Regions from separate parts of the Homo sapiens genome. Here region 1 is linked to region 2. Evidence: fine-mapped expression QTL. A gene starts in region 2. The other region holds a variant in brackets. All regions are shown on one strand. Distances are between the middles of the regions. Region 1 holds the start of FXYD6-AS1 (FXYD6 antisense RNA 1). Region 2 holds the start of FXYD6 (FXYD domain containing ion transport regulator 6).

The links. PIP is the estimated chance that this variant, and not a neighbour inherited with it, causes the effect.
Region 1: its variant is fine-mapped to the expression of FXYD6 in monocytes (BLUEPRINT, PIP 0.95).

Annotation. Positions count from the first base shown.
Region 1 is chr11:117,833,484-117,838,848 of GRCh38, forward strand. The region is part of intron 6 of FXYD6-FXYD2 (FXYD6-FXYD2 readthrough); the gene reads right to left. It overlaps FXYD6 (FXYD domain containing ion transport regulator 6), which reads right to left. Exons shown (of 8, transcript NM_022003.4): 8 at 3,498-4,794. FXYD6-AS1 (FXYD6 antisense RNA 1) reads left to right here and starts at 235. Exons shown (of 3, transcript NR_186291.1): 1 at 235-578; 2 at 2,786-3,019; 3 at 3,685-4,836. The variant A/T (reference allele first, on the strand shown) is at 2,469.
Region 2 is chr11:117,873,415-117,878,779 of GRCh38, forward strand. FXYD6 (FXYD domain containing ion transport regulator 6) reads right to left here and starts at 3,244. Exons shown (of 8, transcript NM_022003.4): 1 at 3,178-3,244. FXYD6-FXYD2 (FXYD6-FXYD2 readthrough) reads right to left here and starts at 3,244. Exons shown (of 10, transcript NM_001243598.4): 1 at 3,178-3,244.

The DNA of each region.
Region 1 (5,365 bases), 40 kb before region 2:
CCCACTGTTGTGCAACCAGGCCCGGGGCTGGGCTGGCCCCATCAGATCAACAGCTGGTTGGCTTGAGCCGGCTGAGTCTGCCCCCCTGGAGCTCAGCTGTGACAGCAATAAATCACACTAATGGAGAGAGGTGGCCATTCCTTCTCTGTGGCCTGGAGACAGGTTTTTCCAAAGCTCCTCCCCTGGCTCAGGCAAACACACCTGACCTTTCTCTCGCTGGGCCCAGGGTGAGGCAGAGCAGCCAGGAACAAGGTGGGGTGAACCAGACAGAGCTGGAGTGCTCTCCCACCCCTGCTTTGCCCAGCCTCCCCGCCAAGCCCATGATTCCAAGCAAGGTAAGGCCCTCCTCCCAGAGGAAGGGGCCAACAGCCCGGTGACCTTGGAGTGTGCTTCGCCTGGCACTCCCCTCACACCGCTCCCTACAGCTTGTACTCTGCCTCTGACTCTCTTCCAAGAACAATTTGGCAAGTTCTAATCTACATCTTGCAAAAAAAAAACAAAAAACAAAAAACAGAGAGGTAGGAGGGCCACAGCACCTGGGGTCCCAGAAGGCAGACTGACCTATTCCTACAGCAGGGGTAAGTAACGCAGAAAACCTCCAGGCAAAGAGACATGGAGATCTTCGAAATGGAATGGGGGGTGGAGGGAGTCACTGGGAGGCAAAAGGTGTGGGACACCTGAGGTTACTGAGACAGGGAACTTGGGATTCCCTTCTGGGAAATGACACAGCATGGCAGCTGTCCTTCTTATTCAGTCAAGCTACATTGCCTCATTAAACCAAATCACAGCTACAAACCAGTGCCACATGCCTGGAGGCTGAGTGGACACTCCTGGTCCTCCTCATGGAGATATATAGCACTCTGAGTTCTGATCCAGCTCATCTGTGTGAAGTCCTCAAACAAGCACATAGTAAGTGCTCCATAAACTTCAGCTGCTCATTTTTTTTAATTATTACCATTTTGACCATCATTTCTTCGATTGTTCTTCATGTGTCTTGTTTCCAGACCATTAGACTCCCACAGGAGGCTCCTTGGAGCATGGTCCAGCTAGTTTATGTCTTGAAGGGGCAGCCATGCTCCAGGTGCAGTCTTGGGAGCCATCTGATCACTGTCCCTTCTTCTGAGCATCTGCCTGCTGAAGGAGGCTAGGCCATGTGCTGACAAGCACTATGGACAGACAGCCCGGGGTCAAGTCCTAGCTCCTCCATCCCCCAGCTGTGTAACCTGGACCAGGACGATTGTATCTCTGACCAATCTCAGAATATAGCTGGATTACTAGGAGGAAAACTAAGTGAGTGCTTAGAGGCGGGCAAAGTAAGGATAACCATTTGTAGATGATGTGCTAGAGATGCTGACCATCATTCCTTACTCTTAACATAATTATTATGAGAAAAATTAGAACCTCCTCATTGGACTTCCTTATTCCTATGTCGAAGTATAATGTTCTGTTTTTACTAACGTATGGGGGGCGGCACACACAAAGCTTTGCATGTCTAGGGCCTCTAGGGATCTCAGCCTGGCCTCGCTATGAAATTTCTGCAAGGCCTGTCAATTCCCTGATGTATCACGAGTGTTCCCGAACAATAAGCTCATTTACCAGGTCTTGCTGTGACCAGATAGTTTTTAATCGCCATGATCACTGGGTTGACAGGTTGAGCTTGAGCTCTACCATAAGCCTGTGTCTTTCCAAAGGCCTGGGGGACCGAAGGCAGAAGCAAGAGCACACGTAGAGAAGGCACCGAGCAAGCGGATCTGTGCGGTTCTTCGGTTCTAAACAACTTGCGGAATCCAGGCGGACTCAGGGCCTGTGTGGCCACTGGGCAGGGAAGGTGGTGGTTCCCAGGCCCATCGAAACCACAAGGAGCACTGACTTCTGTCTCCTGCTATAGCTTCAGGTGCCAGGTTCACTGGGGTCTTAGAAGTTGGGGCTGGAAGGAGGTGGGCCCAGAGGGTCCCGCTCCTTAAGTGCTGGCTTCAAGATGGAAGATATTAAGACGTTCCAGGGGTCGATTCTTTTTTCAAGACCCTAAGATGTTCCAGGCTTCTGTAGAGCAGGCACAGTCCTTGCCCTCCAGGAATTGTATCAATAAAGACACAAAACACTAGAGGCAGAAGCTGCACACAGGCAACCTCCACGCAGAATCTGCCCACATCTGTGTTGGTTTGGCCAACAGTGGTTTTTAGAAAGTTGAGTCAGAGTGTCTTTGGGAGGACACCGTAGGTGACTGCAGGTGCCATGCCCCATCGTCACTCCAGCAGATTCACATATTGGCATTACCTGCCTGGTCTCTACAGTCTGGATGCCAAGTATGAAGTGTGAATATAAAGGCAGCAAACAAGTGTGATTGGGGCACAAGAAAGGGATTCGGCTGGGCGCTGTGGCTCACGCCTCTAATCCCAACAATTTGGGAGGCTGAGGCAGGCAGATCACTTGAGGCCAAAAGTTCGAGACCAGCTTGGACAACATGA[A/T]GAAATCCCGTCTCTACTAAAAATATAAAAATTAGCCGGGTATGGTGGAAGGCACCTGTAATCTCAGCTGCTCAGGAGGCTGAGGCAGGAGAATCGCTTGAACTCAGAAGGCAGAGGTTGCAGTGGGCCAAGATAACGCCACTGCACTCCAGCCTGGGCGACAAGAGCAAAACTCCATCTCAAAAAAAAAAAAAAAAAAAAAAAGGGATTCGATTCTACCTAATGCCCAGGGAGGCTCCACAGAGGAGGGGTATTTCACAATCCACGTCACCCACCCTGTCACTCCCTTGATCCCTTCCTTCCTTTTTTCTTTTTAGAGACAAGGTCTCATTCTGTTGCCCAGGCTGGAGTGCAGTGGTGCAATCACGGTTCACTGCAACCTGGAACTCCAGGGTTCAAGCAATCCTCCTGCCTCAGCCTGCCGAGTAGCTGTGACAACAGGTGCGAGCCACCATGCCCAGCTAAGATTTCACCATGTTGCCCAGCTGGTCTTGAACTCCTGGCCTCAAGCAATTCTCCTGCTTTAGGCTCCCAAGTTGCTGGAATTACAGGTATGAGTCACCACCCCTGGCTCTCTTTACAAGTCCTTAGGTAGTGGCCCCAGAACTGACCAAAGAGAAATGTTAGGATGTTTTACTCCAGGCCACTGAGTACTTGGAGAAGCCATTGTGACTCCCTTTTTTGCTCCAAGACAGTGTGCAATGTACAGGTCCTGCTATGGGATGTGGCTTGAGCCCAGTGGCCTGGGAAGGCGGGAGAGAGGGAGGGAGGAATAGAAATGGCGGGAAGGTGCGGGACGAAGGGCTGAGCAGGAGGAGAGGAAAGTGAAGGAAGAAAAGGAAAGGAGGGAAGAGAAGCGGGGAGGAGGCAACAGTGACAGCAGCTGACGGGGCTCTGTGCCTGCCTGGGTGGCTATCCAGTCCTTCCTCTTCCCTCTGACCATGGACGGACTCCCTCTAGCCCTTTAAGTTCCACAGACCCTACAAACACTCAAGTTCTTTCACAGAAAGGAAAGCACCTCCGAGCCACTAGGAAACAAAGGATATTTTATTCCTTTTTTCTGTTGTTGTTGAGGATAGATCACGATACAGAGAACAGCAATGGGTCACAGCGCACGGTTTGGTTGGTTTCCGCGGGAACACAGAGGACAGGAGGGGCGGGATCTGGGTTGAGTTCCCACTCTCGTTATGACCTTCAACCTCTCACTGTTCCCAAGGGCTGCACGGAGCCTGCTGAGTCTCCAACCCACCTCGCTCACCGCTCTGACCACTGACAGGCAGAGCAAAGGATGCGGGAGTTGCCTCTGCTGCCCATCTAAGGGGACGTAGGCAGAGAAGCAAAGGCCTCTGCTCTCCCTCCATCCATCCCGGTGTGCTGGCCCCAACGGAACAGGAGTCCTTCAACTATTGCCTGCCAGAGACCCAATTGCAGGGACTGTAGTCTGCATCTGGATGAGCTGGGCTGTAGATTGAAGTCTCAGAAGCAGGGAAGGTTGGAAGGGGTAGGGTCCCAGAGCCCATGGAGTTATTGCTGAGAAGATATGCAGGGGACACATTCCCCAGGGGCAGAGTAGAAGCCCTGGGCCTGGAATCCCCGGGCGCTCTGTGAAGGGGCGGGGCAGATGGGGACTCCTCGTGGAAGCCCCTGGGAAGAAATTAACCACGGAAGGGCATAGCCTGCCTGACGTCAACGCTGGGCTCACCAGCTCCTTGCTTTGTATCTCCAGTTGCTAAGAGACCTTCAGACTGGGATCAGGTGGGATAAGGAAGCAAGGTTTTTGTTAAAGGAGTGAAAGGAGTCCATGAAGAATGATGACAAAGTGCTGCAAACCTTCCCAGGTCCCAAGACGACTGAAGACCACTGCCCGTGCTCTTACCCTACGCATCCCTAAATCAGGGGAGGGGGCTGGTCTCGGGCAACAAGCAGCCTCCTAGGAGCAGAAGGTGATGGAGGGCCACGGGGGCAGGGAGGAGCAGATGGCCATGTGGCTCAGCCCCTGCCTGGGAAAGCGAGTCCACAGTTCACTAACAAACACAATACCATCCACAAACAAGTAGCCACAAAGACCACAGTTAGCAAACACACACAGTCACACACACACACACACACACACACATCACGGGAGGTGGGCAGGACCGCAGGCTGCAGTGGGGAGGCAAGTGTTAGTTGCATCATCAGGTGGAGGAATGGTGTTAGAGGGGATAGGGTGGGGGACACACAAGTTCTTGGCTTCTCCTGGGGAAAGGGCTGTTGCTGAAGTGGCCGGTTTTCTTAAGCATCGACATTTGCATCCAAAGGTTCAAGCAGCCGCCTCAGGTTCCAGAGGCTGAGGAGGAGGATAATTTAAATTAAAAACACTTCGGCTGCCTCTGGTATCCTTATCTGCTTCTCTCCCTTCCTTGAGCACCTGCCCACTGAAATTCCCGGTATGACAGCCTCGTCTGAGACGCAGAGAAAGGAGACAAAGACACAGGGGAGGGGTGAACCTCAGAAGAAGCCTCTCCCAGGTGGGCTGGAGCCTGGCAGACATGGAAAGGAAATTGTTAAACCCAGGACCTCCCCAGTGGTTGCTCACAGTCCTGAGCCTTAGGATAAAAGGTTTCTGAGAAAGAACTAGTTTGGGAAAAAAAAAATGAAAAGACATTTCATTTCCAGGCTGCCTCCTCTGAGCCTTCCCAGATTCTCAGTCTGTGATGAAATAGACAGAACACCAAGCTACCAGGAAGGGCACCTGCCTCCTAGATCGGAATCTTCGTCCATTCGCACTTAGGTGATCACTTGCCTTCGAGAGCCCCATCCAGAAGACGGGAGTAATGAGCCCTGCTCTGCCCATCACGGGCCGCTATGAGGATGCAAAAGCACTTAGGAAAGAATTTAAATGCTACACAGGCACACGA
Region 2 (5,365 bases):
TGCTGAAGAGCAGTCCAAGCCATTTCTGGATTTCACCAGAAGCCCAGTTTGCATCCAAAGGGATATTTGTGCAATGAACGCATTTGCCTTTCGGTAGCACGGAAGCTCAGGGGGAGAGCTGGGGCTAGAACCCGGCCTTTCCACAGCAGGCTCCCTGCCTCCTTGGGGCTGTGCCTTTCTTGACTGGTTTGCTTCCCTTAGGGTGCTCAGAAGGTGATTTGTTCGAAGGTGAATATTGGGGGGCTGCCTGGCACAGTCTGCCATCCAGATGGCGGCCGACTAAGTCCAACAAGGTTGGGAGGAAGAGAGGAGGTGCTCTTATTTAGGGGAGATTTCGGTGGGTGGACTCCCCCGAGGCTGTCGGGAAATTTCCAGGGTCTAGGAAACTGCCCTTTCTCCCCCATCTCCTTGCCACAGCTTCCAGCCTCGCCTTCCAAGAAAACATAGTGAAGCAGGCTCCTCGGTTGTACCCGCCCACTAAGGGACCCTCACTTTGGAAGGGCGTCCCAGTCACCAGCCGACCAAAGGCTCTCCCTCCATAGGTTTCCATCAACCCACCATCTCTGATGGTGACTGAGAAAAGAAAGCAAGGGTTGCAGGACAGGCAGTGTGAAGGCCAAAATCCTGGCCGAGGAGTTAGAAGGCCTCAGCGACTACTGGCCACGTGACTGCTGAGCCTCAGTTTCCCCCACTGTGTTCCCACTGGATGCTCCCTCAAGGCCTCTTCCGGCTCTGAGAAACCTAGGATTCCGATGTCAGGGATTGTGTCTCCCTCCTCACCTTCATGTCCCCAGCAATTAATACACAGTAGACACTTAAAACAGTTCTTTGAATGATTGAATGAAATCGGTCCTCAGGTCAGTCTGAAGATCCGATGGAAGCCAGGAAGGAAACGCTTCCCCCAGGCGCCTACCGTCTGTCAACCATAGAAGCCACACGTCTTGGGAGAACCCTGGCAAGCCTAGAGCCCTTTGCACACCCGCTTCCTCTCCTAGATGCACAGATCTGTTTGGAGGAGCCAGGGGGGAAGCAGGAAAACGTGCCAGGAAGAGAGGGTGGCCTGAACCCCAGGCAACGGCGGGTAGCCCTAACTTTCGCTTTCTTGACTCCTGTGGCCCCTCTCCTTCCCTCTTTCTGGTTTCCCTCCCCTTCCTGCCTCCCTGGCCTGGCCTCCTTGGCTTTCCTGGGACAGTAACCACTTTTCCTTCTCTCCTTTGTTAGGGCTCAGAGCCTCCGATGGTCCCAGAGCTGGCCTGATCCTCTGCTGGTGAGGATGACTCCCAGAGCCTCAGGCTTTCTCTGGGTCAGGGAAAAGAGCAGCGGCAGTGGAGAGATTGAAATTCTGGTCAGTGCCCAGCTTCTGGAGCCCAGCACCTGGGAATGGCTCTCGTTAACACCTGGAGCTCCGGACTGGGGCTTTGAGGAGGAGGGAAAAGGGCTGCGCCCACTCTTTATCCAACCTTCCCTTCCAGGTTTAGGGAAGGGGCTCCTCTTTTGAGGGAATCTGGCAGTGCCTTTCCCTCCACCTTCCTCTGCAGGGTTCCCAGGGAGATGTTAGGGTTTTCCTTCTGGGCTTCCTGAGCCTCCATCTCTTCCCCTCCACACCCCTAGGGAGGTGGCTGGATAAGGAAGGAAACTGCCCTCTCTCTCCCCTGCCTCAGCCCAGCCTGAGACTTATTTAGATGTACTGTGTGTGTGTGTGTGCATGCACAGTGCGCATGTAGGGTGTCAGTGTAGCATTGTAGCTGGTGTGTGGTGGTGCGGTATATATGCGGTGTGTTTGGTGTGTATGTGTGTATAGGTATGATGTATATGTATGTGTGGTGTGAGTGTGAGGGTGTGTTGATTGCGTAGTGTGGTATATGTCTGTATGTGTTTGTGGTGTTGGTGATGTGCAGTGTGTGTGAAGTGGGTGGTGTGAGTAAGGGGCCACTGCAATTGGGTGTAGGAGCCAGATATCTAGGTCTCCTAGCCAGGGATAACCAGTATCTAGGCAACCATACTGGGGGGAGGGGAGGAGATATGGAGGTGAGGAATGGGCAGGAGAAAGAGGGAGGCTGAGAAATGGAGGAGTTTCCATGGCAACGACCAGGCAAGTCACGTGCAAAAGGCTAAGTTGCGGACGTAGACATACACATCCATAATATGAGGGTGGCTGGATCCCCAAAGGGGGCTCCTTTCAGAGAGGGCCTGAGATGCCCACTGATCCATCTTCAAAGCTGGAAATCTTAGCCCAGCCAGACAGCACGAAGCCACAGAGACAAAGGAAGTAGTGGCAGAGAGCACACTGGTGGGGAGAAGCCTCCAGTAGCCACGGTCCCGCGAGCGTGCAGGCTTGCAGCAGGTGACGCGGCAGACCCATGTTTCCAGCGAGGCTGCTCCCAGCTCCCACCCTCGGGTGCCTCCTCTACCAGCCACCACTTGTAAGAGCCAGAAGCCAGCGCTGGGAGCTCCAGGCTGCACACCCAACTCTCCACGGAAGCCCGGGAGACACAATAGGGGAGGCTCTGCCAGGGCCAGCCCTGCTGGGGAAAGGGGGCAATGGCGGACCCCAGGGCCCCCCGGAAAGGAAACAGGATTGGATGGATAAGACAAGAAGGAGGGAAAAAATGATGCACTCTCATGAATCCCCGAGCGCTAGAATCCTTCTTTCCCTGCGCCCCCATCCTGTGCCCACTGCCCAGCCCCACCTTCCCCAAGCACCAAACCAGCAAGTTCCATTTTGTGTCGCTCATAAGTCCACACTCACACCCAGCCACACGCCCTCGTCCGTAATTCCCCACGCTCCACCAAGTGTCCACAGCTTCCAAGTAACAAAGGGAAAACTCCTCATGGATAAAGGGTGGGCGCAGCCCTTTCCCCTTCTCCTGAAAACCCTGACCCCAAGCTCAAGGCAGCACCGAGAGCAATTCCCAGCCACCAGCGTCACCCCCAGCGCCACAGCCTGCCTCCCCTAGAGGCTCCTCTCTCTTCCGACGCCGATCTCCTTGTTTACATCCCCAGCCCGGTTTCCCGCTGCCCAGGCGGGGACCGCGGCGCAGCTGACCGCGGAGGACCGCACACACCCACTGAACACACAAAACCCGGCGCTCCCGGCGCTCCAGAGATCGGTCCCCACCGAGCCTCGCCCCTCCTCGGAAAAAGGAGCCAACTTTGCCCACCTCCCCAGCCGCCTACCTGCACAGCCGGTCCCCTCCGAGACTCCCAGGAGGACCCGCCGAGTCCCGAGGAGCCTGGGAGTGGCGGGGCTGGGGGCAGGGCGGTGGGTGAGGCTTGAGCTGCTTTCCCGCCTCCCCTCCTCCTAGGAGTCGGGCTGGCTGGGAGGCGCGTCCTGCGGGGGCGGGGGGGGGGCTCGCTCGGGGCTGGGCTCGGGGACAGCCCACTCCGTGCTGCCGTCCGCTGGCTTCTGGGTAGCGGCCGCGCGCAGACCCCCTCTCCTCCTCTCCCTGTCCGTCCTCCCGCTCTGTGCTCGCGCGCGTCCTCTGCTCCTCTCTCCTCTCGAGGGGCGGAGAGATTTTTCCAAAGGGCAGTCAAGCTCCGAGAAGCAACAGGAGACTGCCGCCGAGGAGGCGTGCAAGCGCCGGAGCGGATTTGCCATCAGCTGTTGCTTTTCGGTTTCCCTCTGGTTAGGGTGGGAAGGGAGCAAGACAGGCACAATGACAGACCTGGTGTCTCTCTGCAATAGTAAACCCCGAGGAACGGAAAAATAGGAGAAAATAACCCAGCACCAGACACAGCAGCCCACGTTAATTGGGAGCCTTGGTAATTAAGGGGAATGTGCACCAAAAGCATGAATGGCTGTGTCGTGGGCGCAGGAGCCAGCTCCAGTTGTAGTTGTCATTTTCAGCTAGAGCCAGGTGGGGAGCTGGGGGGATGGTCCTTACCTGAACCATAGATCTGCTGCCTTGAACCCCCTTTTCAAGCCCCATCCACCTCTGGCCCTGCCAGGAGCAGTACCACCCCGTCCTCAGCCCAGTCCCCAAGAGTCAAAATTCATGATGACGAACTTTGAATGTGAAGATGTAAATAAATCCTGGCTCGGCAACCCTGCCTGTGACGCGACTTGGAGCATATCTCTGCACTCAGCTCCTGAGTCTATTTCCTCACGTGGGAAAATGGTGATTAGAGACTGACCCCATGGGAGGCTTAGCTCATAGTGAGTGCTCAAGAAATTGGCTCTTACTATTAGGGGCAGAGCTTGTAGGAAGGGGCAGAGGCCAGGCACAAGTGTCAGTAGCCAGGAGCCATGCTGAGATGGAGGCTGTCCAGCCTCAGTCAAGGTGTGTGTATGGCCGAGCCGGGTGGAGGGAGGAGCTACTGAGAAAGGCTGTGATTGTCCAAGCCTAGGTAGGGCCACGGAGAGTTCCTTACAAACCCCAAGCCGGGGATGATGGGTACTGCTAGGAAGAAACCTAGCCCTGCCTCTGCTGCCCTCAGTTCTGGGCCTGTTTTCTCATTTGGGAAAATAGGGAGATGGACTAGATGATCCTGAGGTCTCTTCCAGCTCTGCCCTAGATGATCTAATTATTTTAATAAAAGGTCAGGTCTCAAAACCCCAAGGCAGGAAATATACATGAACTCAAGAAGACTTTGGAACCAGTAGGGGAACCATAAATAGCTACTGAGAAAGAGCACCCAAAAAGCCTCCCCTCAGGGGATAGTTCTGGCCCCTTAATCATGGGACCTGGCTGAATGGATGCCACTCTGGCCCAGTCCTGAACTCCCTGGGGTTCCTGTGAATGCTAAAGCTCCTTCTCCAAAGCCAGACTCAAATCTTGCCTATTTGCGTGCCTAACCCTTTGCCGTTCCTGTCTTTTCCTCTATAAACTGAGGACAGCATTCCAACTGTCGTTTTCCCTTTTCATGTATTCTAGGTGGCAGATTTAAAACCACATCCCTTTCTAGGCCCATGTCCTTAGGCAGGTACATTCATCCCTCCAAATGCCCTTGAATCCTGCCTTTTGGCCATCTCTCTGTGCTTTTTAGAGCACCTACTAGTGATGACACGTCAAGCCCAGGCTTTGCAAGCCTATTTGGGAAAGGATAGTTCAGAACTCCAAAGCCAAGCCACCTTCTGGTTCAACCCCATTTCCAGCCAGAGAGTTCTGAAGTGTTTGGCCCAGTGACTTCCCAGGTCCCCCTACCTAATGCTGACCAGCCCAGGCTGCAGAGGGATAACAGGAACTAAATGTGCATGAGAAACCGCCATGGCTTAACTCTCAAATAGTGCTTCATCACGTTCCATCCAAGGGTACTGCTGGAAGAATTTGGGGTGTTACAGCTACAAAGCAGCACGCAAGCTTGTTCTGGGGTGAGTCACATCTCCCTTCTAGCAGGAAAATAAACACATCTACCCCCTGTGAAA